Linked DNA regions of Homo sapiens. The gene in region 1 interacts genetically with each later gene. Each region holds a gene or a part of one and is shown on either strand. Other genes may lie near its edges. The genes, in order: WDR7, SEC22B and BNIP1.

Region 1 (3,655 bases):
AACTATCTGGTCAAAAATAAATCACATTTTAAAAGTGATTCATAGATGCTGAGGCATATAAATCATGTTTTAAATTTCTGCAGGTGATATTATAATGAATGAACTCTTCTGCTTATGCTGTATCCATCACCAACCTACAGCAATTTCAAGAGTTACTGATTAAGCTAAAAGCCCATTATGCCCACCAAGACCTTACTTTTTAAAGGAAATTCCATTTGGTTGAACCAACTTCGACTTTCTCCTGCCACCCACCTCTAATCTCATTTGCATCTCCAGTCATTCCAATTTCTTCCCTTAGGTTGCCATCAAAAGTCTAAACTGAGCACTGAACTTTCTCGTTGTATATAAATTGAATTAAACAGAAAAAGAAGAAACAAACATGCTTCCCCAAATTTGAAGCTGAATTGTCACATTAGTCTTGGAATCACTAAAATAAGATGGGCAACTGTGAAGGTATGAAAGTCACACTAACTAGAGAGGAACCCAGCTCTCCATTTCCATTTTAAACTCTGAGGAAATATGTGATGTCTCAAGTTAAACTTCTCATTTGTAACATTACCCTCCTCCTGCTCTGCCTGTCACAAAAACTGCCCTTGACAAGGTCACCAATGACCTCCCCACTGTTAAATCCATTATCAAGTTCTAACCCTTATCTTACTTGACCTACCAGCAATTTGACATAGTTCATATTCCGTCTTTGAAATAAATACTTCTTTACCTGGCCTCAAAGTCTTCACTTTTTCCTGACTTTCCTTCTTCTTCTCTAGCTTTAGTCTCCTTTCTTTCTTTTCTTTCTTTTTTTTTTTTTTTAACCTTTAAATATTGGCATTCCCACAACTTAGTCCTTAGACTTCTCTTCTCTGGCAACACTCCCTCCCTCAATGATCTCATCAAGCCTCATTGCTTTAAACCATCTATAGGTTGAGTATCCTTTATCTGAAACACTTGGGATCAGAAGTGTTTTAGATTTTGGATTTTTTTCAAATTTGGGGATATTTGTATTATACTTACAGGTTGAGCATCTCTAATCTGAAAAATCTAAAATGCAAAATGCTCCAATGAGCATTTCTTTGGAGTGTCATGTTTATGCTCAAGAGTTTTGGATTTTGGAGCATTTTGGATTGCAGATTTTGACAGTTCCCCAGTTTATTGTGTGGGATGCTTTTCTGAAATCCAAATCAGTATGTCCAGCTTCCTACTCAACATCTCCTTTTGGATAGCTAATAAGTTTCTCAAACTTGGCATGTCCAAAAGTGAGCCCCTGATCATTCCTCAATGGTGCCCCTCCCACAGTCTACCCATCTTAGTTATTGGCAACTCCAGTTTTATAGCTACACAGACCAAAATCCTAGAATCATCTTTAGTTACTCTATTACTCTCTCACACATACACATTCCACATCCCAATCCATCAGTAAACTCCACTGGCTATACCTTCAAATCATATCCAGAATCCTGCAACATCTCAACACTTTCACTACAACCACCCTATTCTCAATCAGCATCTTCCATCAGGGATAACACAACAGCCCTCTAACTGGTCTCCCTGTTTCCATCTTTGCTCCCCTGCAGTCTCAACACAGCATATAGAGTGACACTATTAAAAAAAAAAATCATGCTGTGATCACATCTCAAAATCTTCCAATGGCTTCCTGTCTCACACATAGCAAAAGCCAACTCTACATACAACTGCCTATCCTATATGAGTGAGGTGGTTGTTCTCTCCCTTGCTTACTCTTTTCCATCTGCTCTGATTCATTGGTGTTGCTCAAAGATACTAAACAGAATCTTACCTCAGAACAGTGTCCCCCACCCCAGATTCCTTCTGGCACACTCCTTTGCCCTCTTCAAATCTCTATAAAATATTACCTTTTTAGTGAAGAGTTTCCTGACCATCATAAATTGCAAAATCTACCACTCAAACTAAACACTTACAATCATTTAACATACCATATGTTTTATTTATTTATCATCTGCCTCTCCTGGTGTATGTTCTATGATGGTAAAGATCTGTGTTTGGTTTCTTCTCTATTGTATTCCCAGTGCCTAAAATTCCTTCCACATAGAAGGAATCCAAATACTTGAATAAATAAACAAACTAGTGAATGAAATATGTTTGCGTTGGTTTAAGTAAAGTTGCACCCATCAGCAAATTAAAGTATATCCCGATTTTATATGTTTTGGATTTCACAGGGCAGTTTCTTGTCAACTAGTTCTTCTATAATAATGTCAACAATTAATACAAGCCTCCTTAATCAAAATGTCATTAACATATTGTTTTTTTCCCCAGCTACAGGTTTTACCTACGCTCCTGCCTCTTTTAGTCTATCGTGACATATACACAGCAAAATATATCTTAGGGCCTATGAAGCAAATTAGCTGACATAATCACTACTACAGTCACTAAGGCCTAGTAATTAATCACAACACTGTTTCTTAAAAGTAAGTACAGGGGGCCGGGCGCGGTGGCTCAAGCCTATAATCCCAGCACTTTGGGAGGCCAAAGCTGGCAGATCACAAGATCAGGAGTTCAAGACCAGCCTGGCCAACATGGTGAAACCCCATCTCTACTAAAAAAAAAATACAAAAATTAGCTGGGCACAGTGGTGCACGCCTGTAGTCCCAGCTACTCAGGAGGCTGGGGCAGGAGAATCGCTTGAACCCAGGAAGTGGAGGTTGCAGTGAGCCAAGATCATGCCACTGCACTCCAGTCTGAGCAACAGAGTGAGACTCTGTCGTTAAAAAAAAGTAAGTAAGTACAGTGATATTTCATTCGTGTGAATTTTTTGCTCCAACTAATGGAAGTTTATACTGTTTATTTGTATTTGAAACATTTAGAAAAAAGAAGAGCCTTTAAGGAAGATAGCTTAAATGTGAAATAAACTTGAATGTGAAAACAGAAGGTAACTGGCTCACTCTATCAGTCTGTTATCACTGACATATACCAACTACCAACATTCAGAGAGAAACATGATGTGCAAAAAACTATCTTCAGTGAGCTTGTAGGGTCATAAATTACAACTGCTAAGCTGAATGGGAGACTGCATTTTCAAAGTCATGTATTTCCAGGCTGGGCGCAGTGGCTCATGACTAATTCCAGTACTTTGGGAGGCCGAGGCAGGCAGATCACTTGAGGTCAGGAGTTTGAGACCAGCCAGGCCAACATGGTGAAACCCTGTCTCTAATAAAAATACAAAAATTAGTTGGGTGTGGTGGTGCACACCTGTAATCCCAGCTACTTGGGAGGCTGAGGCAGAAAAATTGCTTGAACCGGGGAGGCAGAGGTTGCAGTGAGCCGAGATCATACCACTGCACTCTAGCCTGGGCGACAGAGCGAGATTCTGTGTCAAAAACAAAACAAAACAAAAAAACAAAGTCACATATCTCCAGAAATGTTATATTTTAAAGAGCCTACAGAATAACGCTTAGCACTTCAGAAATCTTCCCTCCCCTAAACTGACCAGTGCCCTAACATTCGTTGTTCCAACATTTTATGGCTCCCACTAACTCAAGTAATCAACAGCCAAAAAAAAAAACCCCTGTAATTTCATTAAACGTCACCAACATAGTTTGAAAAAAAATCCAATTTTATTTAAAATAGTAAATACTTCATGAATGTAATATATATGTTCCTTAATAGAAAGGAAGTAAAAATT
Region 2 (3,655 bases), on another chromosome or scaffold:
AAATATATTTCCATATAACATAAGTATATATTTCATATATTTATATTAAAGTAGGCAAACATATTTGGATAATTAAATATTTTTATATAATTTCGTATATTTTTTTGAGACAGAGTCTTGTTCTGTTGCCCAGGCTGGAGTGCAATGGCACGATCTTGGCTCACTGCAACCACCATCTCCTGGGTTCAAGCGATCTTCCCACCTTATCCTCCTGAGTACCTGGGGCTACAGGCATGTGCCACCACGCCTGGCTAATTTTTGTATTTTCTTAGTAGAGATGGGGTTTTGCCATGTTGTTCCGGCTGGTCACAAACTCCAGGGCTCAAGCAATCCACTCACTTCAGCTTCCCAAAGTGCTGGGATTACAGGCATGAGCCACAACACCCAGCCCTTTATATAATTTTAAAAGTGTAGGTAATTAGGTAAAATTAGGTTAAAAGTATATGTATATTTACCTGATATTTAAATATTACCTAAGTGTTTAATGTGGACATGTAAGCTCTTTAAAGATAGTGCTTATGTATTTTATATCTGTTTCACATACTCCTTATATATCCCCCACAGAAATGGTCACAAATAGGTTCCTTAATAAGTATTTTTGAATTCAGCCATGCTATATATTCATTAGTAAGTGAGTTTTCTTTTATTATGAACTACAAACTTTAACCTTTTTTTGAGTAGTGAGCAGTTATTCATTTACCTTCACACTCTTTAAATACCAAATTTTGAGTGAGTGAGTGTGTAAGGTTTTGTCATACAGACTTGCAATTCCTATATGGGATAAAGTAGACTAGCACAGGAATTTTTCTTGTATCACTCATGCAAGACTCTAAATTCCTTAAAGGCAGGGATCATGTATATTTTGATCACTGTTGTATCCTCAGCACTTCACATGGTGCCTGTCACATAAATATTTGTTAAATGACTTCTCCAAGCAATAGCTTTGTCTTTATGTTATCCTGTATTTCAAAACGTTCATATATAAATTCTCTCAACTATGACTTGTTTCATAGGGTCTAATAATTGTTCCTCTGCTGAGTTATTCTCAGCAGATTTAGATTCATTTAGCAAATGTTTATTGAGCACTAACTATATACCAGGCCCTGTTCTGGGCATTCAGGATATAGCAGCAAACACAATAATTTAAAATCCCTGTCCAGTGAAGTGTATATTCTTGTAGGCTCTGTAAAAAGATGCCCTGTGCATTGTCATGGTTGTTTCTCAGTCCCTGACTCTTCTTCCGTGACTAGATGTTTTTCTTACTCATGTGATCAGTTGCTAATTCAGACGTGGCTGTCATGCCTGTGTTATTAAGTAACGCCATGTTTCCCAATCAAAACCAGTCTCTATTAAGCAACTCCAAATATTCCAAAAGCATTCTTTAAGGAAGAAACAACCGGATTGCAAAATAGTTTTTTCTGAAATTTCAAGAAGTGAAAAGTTTGATCAGAATTTATTATGTCAAATGGAGAGTTTGTGTTTATTATTAAAATATGCCTTATATTTTAATATGGTCTAGCTTGTGTCTATCTGGCTATTTCTCTAAGTGTTTAGTTAACTGTTATAAGAAGATAACAACATTACAAATGTCCTTGGGGGTGAAAAAACTTGCCAGAAAATACTAAAAAGCTTAATTTACTTGCGTTTTTTTTTGTAGTACTTATTGTATTTTAGTTACAACTTTCCTATGTCTATTGAAATATAAATCCTGATAGCTTTAACTTCATAGTAGTCTCTACTATGTGGAGAATCTTAGAAATGTTAGCAGTCATCATTGAAGTATAGCTTAAGACTGTGTTTGGTTAATTGAATTTTCTGGTTATCTGAGTTTGTTTTACATGGGTTATCATTATCGTTTTTCAAAATATAAGAGAATATGATTCAGACCATTAGAAGATTATGAAGATAATAATTATTAACATGTAATAATTATTATAATTTATCATGTGCAGGCATTGTTGCTCACTTTACAGGCAATCTCATGTACATACAACTTTATGACATAGTTACTGTTATTATCCCCAATTATAGATGAAGAAACTAGGTTTTAAATAGGTTACATGACTTGACCAATGTCACATAACTTGTACAGGTGATATCTGAACCAAAGAGTCTGAGGCCAGAACCTGCACTTCTAACCACCTTACTATATAGCCTCAAAAATTCAGACATCATCTGATCAGCATCATCAGTTAATTAGTATATGCAATGTTAGCCTTAAAATAAAAATGATGATTTAAGATTCATGGTTGTTGCAGTGCTGCTCATTTTGGTTTGCCTTAATACTTTCGGTAAAATACTTCCAGGGACTAATTAATGTTTTCCTTTTTTCCTCTTTGACAGCATTGGATTCAAAGGCTAACAATTTGTCCAGTCTGTCCAAGAAATACCGCCAGGATGCGAAGTACTTGAACATGCGTTCCACTTATGCCAAACTTGCAGCAGTAGCTGTATTTTTCATCATGTTAATAGTGTATGTCCGATTCTGGTGGCTGTGAAATAATGAATACAGTCACTGGTAAGGGAGAACCTAGAACCCAGTAGGTGTATATTTTCAGGAAACTGAGCTCACAGAGATGTGTATTAGAATCCAAGTGGAACTTCTGCCTCTAAAGACCTTGCAAGAAAAGAGATGCCCTGAAAATGAAAGGTTGCACCTCATTTAATGAAGCTTAACCCTATGTAGAAAGTCTCTTTCGGGGGCAGAGGCTTTCTCTGGGTGCCAAGCCATATATATTAGGGAATAGTAGATTGTTAATTTCGTTTTTTCCCTCCCAGTGCATTTTAAAAACAGCACTGGCTGGGGCATTCTCATTCTCTGATGGAGCCATCAATGAGATTTAACTTAGTCAACCTGTGCTAGCAACATTCTGAAATTCCTTCAAAGAAGGCAGTCCTTTGGGAAGGTGTTTTTTTTTTTTTTTTTTTTTTTGACTCTAATCAACATTCCTTTTGTTGGTGACATTTGTGATTTTCAGTAATCTGAGTTTTTGATGGCCTTTTAAACAAGACTCCAGTATGTGAAGGTTAATTGCTGTGCTCCACAGATCTTGTCTATTGGCCCCTGTAGAAAGTTAACCTTTGTTGTTTTCCTTTTATAATTTGCTTATTGCACAATTGCTTTAGGGTAAGTGAATTATATTAAGATGCCTTGAAATTATAGCACTCCTTGATTAAGAAGCTAAAATGTTTCTCTCATTTACTCCTTAAACAAAAGACTTAAATTAGTTTGGGTCATTATTACTTTTATTTTGCAGCATTTGGTTTGTTATTAGCGTAAGAGCAAGTATAGGATATGGAGAGGCCCCTGGCTTCATGAGAACAAAGGCAGGCCCAGGTTATAATTACAGCTTTCTCCTGCCCCTTCTTTACTTTCTCTACCACAGTTTTCTCCACTGTTTGTTTTCCTCTTGCCACAATTTGCTAACATTTAAAAAATTTTCCTGCACCCAGTAGTTTCATATCCTGTAGACATCCTCTTAGGACATTCTCAAATTTCAAAATAAAAAATATTCATCTATGTAGTTAATTAAAGTTAAAGTTTTTGCAGATCAACTACTCAAACTACTAAATACATTTACCTGAGAAAAAGTCTCTGAGAGCACTTCATTCCTGTTTTAGTTCGTGTAAATTCTCTGAGAATGTTCTGGAGATA
Region 3 (3,655 bases), on another chromosome or scaffold:
TTCACCGTGTTAGCCAGGCTGGTCTCGATCTCCTGACTTTGTGATCAGCCTGCCTCAGCCTCCCAAAGTGCTGGGATTACAGGCGTGAGCCACCGCGCCCGGTCAAAACTTATACTGTTAAGTATAATTTTATTATACGTATATTGGAAATTTTTCCATTTCAGTAATCAGAGACTGTCCTCATTTTTCTTTTTTTTTCTTTTTTTGAGACAGGGTCTTGGGCTGTCACCCAGGCCAGAGTGCAGTGGCACAATCTCAGCTCACCACAGCCTTGATTTCCCAGGCTCAAGCGATTTTCCTCCTGCCTCAGTCCCCCAAATAGTTGGGACTACAGGCGTGCGCCACCACACCCAGCAAATTTTTGTAGTTTTTATAGAGACAGGGTTTTGCCATGTTGCTCAGGCTGGACTTGAACTCCTGGACTCAAGTGATTGCCTGCCTCAGCCTTCCAAAGTGTTGGGATTACAGGCAGGAGCCACCACACCTGGTCTCTCATTCTTTTCTAAATAACTGTCATTTTTTTTTTTTTTTTTAGCCAGTTCTCTATCAAAGGGCATTTATTTGGACTGCTTCCACATTTTTTTTTAAGCTAACTTATTCCCTGACAGACTTTTCTTCAACTCAGCATGACTTCAACTCTCCAACTACACCTGTTACCTTCAGTGTGAGTATTTGTATGTTCTTTTTAAACATCTGGGTGCCCACCCAGTGTTTATTTCCTTCACTCATTAAAATGACCTCACCAATACGTGTACATTTACATATTTATTATGGCACCTAGGAAGGACCTAATAAGCACATGGCCAGTAAATGAATAACCCCATCCCAGTTTTAATCTGCGTTTCTTAAGTATTTACATACTCTTTTTGTATCTGGAAATAAATACAAGATTCCTGTTTGTTTGCCATTTTTAGCTTTTATTTGAATGTCTTTTTTGTGTATTTCCAACAAGATCATGTGATACTAGAGAACTGGCCTCATATCCTCAAAACTGGGTGTTCTGCACATGGTGAATCTTGGGCACTGACTGTGTATAAATATCTGTGTGTTTGTCTTTGTACATATAGCTCTCAAACTGGAATTTGAGGACTGCTCTCCCCCGCCATTCCTTTCTCCAGAACTATCACTGGTTCTCTTTGAAAGAACTTCCAGGCAATCTTTCATGAGTAAATTGTACATTTCTCCCCCTTTTTAATCCCTCCGCTTTTCCCATGCGTTCATTCTTCCATTCAGTGACTCAGTGCCCAGTATGTGCCAGGCACAAGGAATATATGTAGTGAATAATGTGAGATACAGCTCTGCTTATTCATAGAATTTACATTCTTTTTTTTTTTTTTGAGACGGAGTCTCACTCTGTTGCCCAGGCTGGAGTGCAGTGGCACGATCTCGGCTCACTGCAATCTCCACTTCCCGGGTTCACGCCATTCTCCTGCCTCAGCCTCCCGAGTACCTGGGATTACAGGCGCCCGCCACCACGCCTGGCTAATTTTTTGTATTTTTAGTGGAGACGGGGTTTCACCGTGTTAGCCAGGATGGTCTTGATCTCCTGACCTCGTAATCTGCCTGCCCTGGCCTCCCAAGGTGCTGGAATTATAGGCGTGAACCACCAGGCCCAGCCCATAGAATTTACATTCTAATAGGGAATACAGATTTTAAACAAATAATTATGAAAATAATTGATGACATTTGCAAAACTTTTCTAATTCACAGTTGATTATTTCTTTTATTCTCTACCTCAGCAATATTTGGAGGCATAAATTGAAAGTCATCTCTGTGCTATTGAAATGGTGGATACACAAACTTGTTCCAAACCAGTATGTGCAAATTGATACGTAAATCAGTAAATTAGTATATAAATGAGCAAATACATTGATGTTTCAGATCAATAGCGTGATTGAAGCTAGAACCTGTTTTAATTTGTAAACCAAAAAATGTGATTGGTATAATGCTATCTTTAATTATAGTCCCTCTTGATGGTTCTTTTATCTGAAGTTCTTGGGGTTTAATACTTCTGGGTATGTCTGCTGACCCTAACTTATAGTGGGTTATTTCCTTGGTGTTAGGTTATTTTGGACTGTGAGCGCTCATCTTAGCAGACCTTATCTGAGGGACTTTGTGCAGCTGGGTCGAGGCCAAGTCTCTACAGAGGTTTTTGCATTAGCTTCCCGCCAGGTCTCCTGAGATGATCACAAGTCTGACAACATTTTTTTTTTTTTTGAGACAGTCTCTCTCTGTCGCCCAGGCTGGAGTGCAGTGGCGCAGTCTTGGCTTGCTGCAAGCTCTGCCTCCCGGGTTCACGCCATTCTCCTGCCTCAGCCTCCTGAGTAGCTGGGACTACAGGTGCCCGCCACCACGCCCGGCTAATTTTTTGTATTTTCAGTTGAGATGGGGTTTCACCATGTTAGCCAGGATGGTCTCGATCTCCTGACCTCGTGATCTCCCCGCCTCGGCCTCCCAAAGTGCTGGGATTACAGGCGTGAGCCACTGCGCCCGGCCGAGAACACTGTTTATGTTCATTTCTCTTCATGGAGTTTCACGAACCACTCAGGGAAGATAAATTGAACCCTAGATCAGTGGAAGGAGCAGCTCCCTGGTTGGTTATAAATTCTCAGGGGAGTTTTTTTTTAACCCCTCTATTTGGAACTCATAGCAAAAAAAGGCAAGCATCTATGTTTTCCCTCTGTGCTGGTAGATGGACATTTTTTTATACCATTTTCCTGTGTCTGTAACCTTTCGTGGGTTTTAGATTTGTGGTGATCTCAGTTCAGCTTCTCAACCTCAGCCTCAGATGGCTCAGGGCTTCATTTTTCTGTCCCTGCACGAGCTCTCAAACCTTCAAGCGCTCAAACTGCCTATTACTCGTCTTTAATTAAATAGGCACAGAAATTGTGAGTATCTGGAAATGAACAGCAGTTTGATATTTTAATGATATCTAAGTGGGGGATCAGTGTGCTTGTATTTCGTCATTGTTTTTCTTTTCCTTTCGGGCCTGCCCTAGGTGACAGGAGCAGCAGCTCTGACGCCAGGACAGCCGTGCATCACTCCCAGGCTGACTATTCCAGCTCTTGTTCCCTTCCCACTTTTGGGCCATAGGGGTTTTCCTTACTTCCTTGTGGACTTAGCTATAGATTTAAAAGGATGTGTGTTATATGTTACCTAGCATTCCTAGGTGTTCTGTTTTAAAAGGGTGCTTCAAGTGCTATTGTATGCCCTTGGCAGAAATAGAAATGCTCTTCTGCTTTCATGTTGACTTTTGAAATCATTTTAACATGGAATTATTTTTCCTCAAAGGACCTGGAGCAGTTGGCTAAAGAGCAAGACAAAGAATCAGAGAAACAACTTCTACTCCAGGAAGTGGAGAATCACAAAAAGCAGATGCTCAGGTAGGCAGGGCCTGCCCCCGCCAGCGGCTTCTGCTGGCTCTTCTTGTTGCCTGTGAGCCTTGCACGTGTGTTTGCCTGATGGATCTGCTTTAATGCTGACTTAATGGTGTCTTTTTTTTTTTTTTGAGAGACGGTGTCTCGCTCTATTGCCCAGGCTGGAGTGCAGTGGCCTGATCTTGGCTCACTGTGACCTCTGCCTCCCGAGTTCAAGCAATTCTTCTGCCTCAGCCTCCTGAGTAGCTGGGATTACAGGCGCCCACCATCACGCCTGG

The links.
Region 2: changes in WDR7 (region 1) and SEC22B together harm fitness more than expected from each alone (negative genetic interaction), as found in Homo sapiens cells (one large-scale study listed by BioGRID).
Region 3: changes in WDR7 (region 1) and BNIP1 together harm fitness more than expected from each alone (negative genetic interaction), as found in Homo sapiens cells (one large-scale study listed by BioGRID).

Annotation. Positions count from the first base shown.
Region 1 is NC_000018.10:56,657,814-56,661,468, reverse strand, and holds part of WDR7 (WD repeat-containing protein 7), read right to left. Parts: intron 1-3,655.
Region 2 is NC_000001.11:120,155,881-120,159,535, reverse strand, and holds part of SEC22B (vesicle-trafficking protein SEC22b), read left to right. Parts: intron 1-2,343; coding exon 2,344-2,498; 3' UTR 2,499-3,655. UniProt on the Homo sapiens protein: SNARE involved in targeting and fusion of ER-derived transport vesicles with the Golgi complex as well as Golgi-derived retrograde transport vesicles with the ER.
Region 3 is NC_000005.10:173,151,031-173,154,685, forward strand, and holds part of BNIP1 (vesicle transport protein SEC20), read left to right. Parts: intron 1-535; coding exon of another isoform or gene 536-664; intron 665-3,291; coding exon 3,292-3,383; intron 3,384-3,655. UniProt on the Homo sapiens protein: As part of a SNARE complex may be involved in endoplasmic reticulum membranes fusion and be required for the maintenance of endoplasmic reticulum organization. Also plays a role in apoptosis.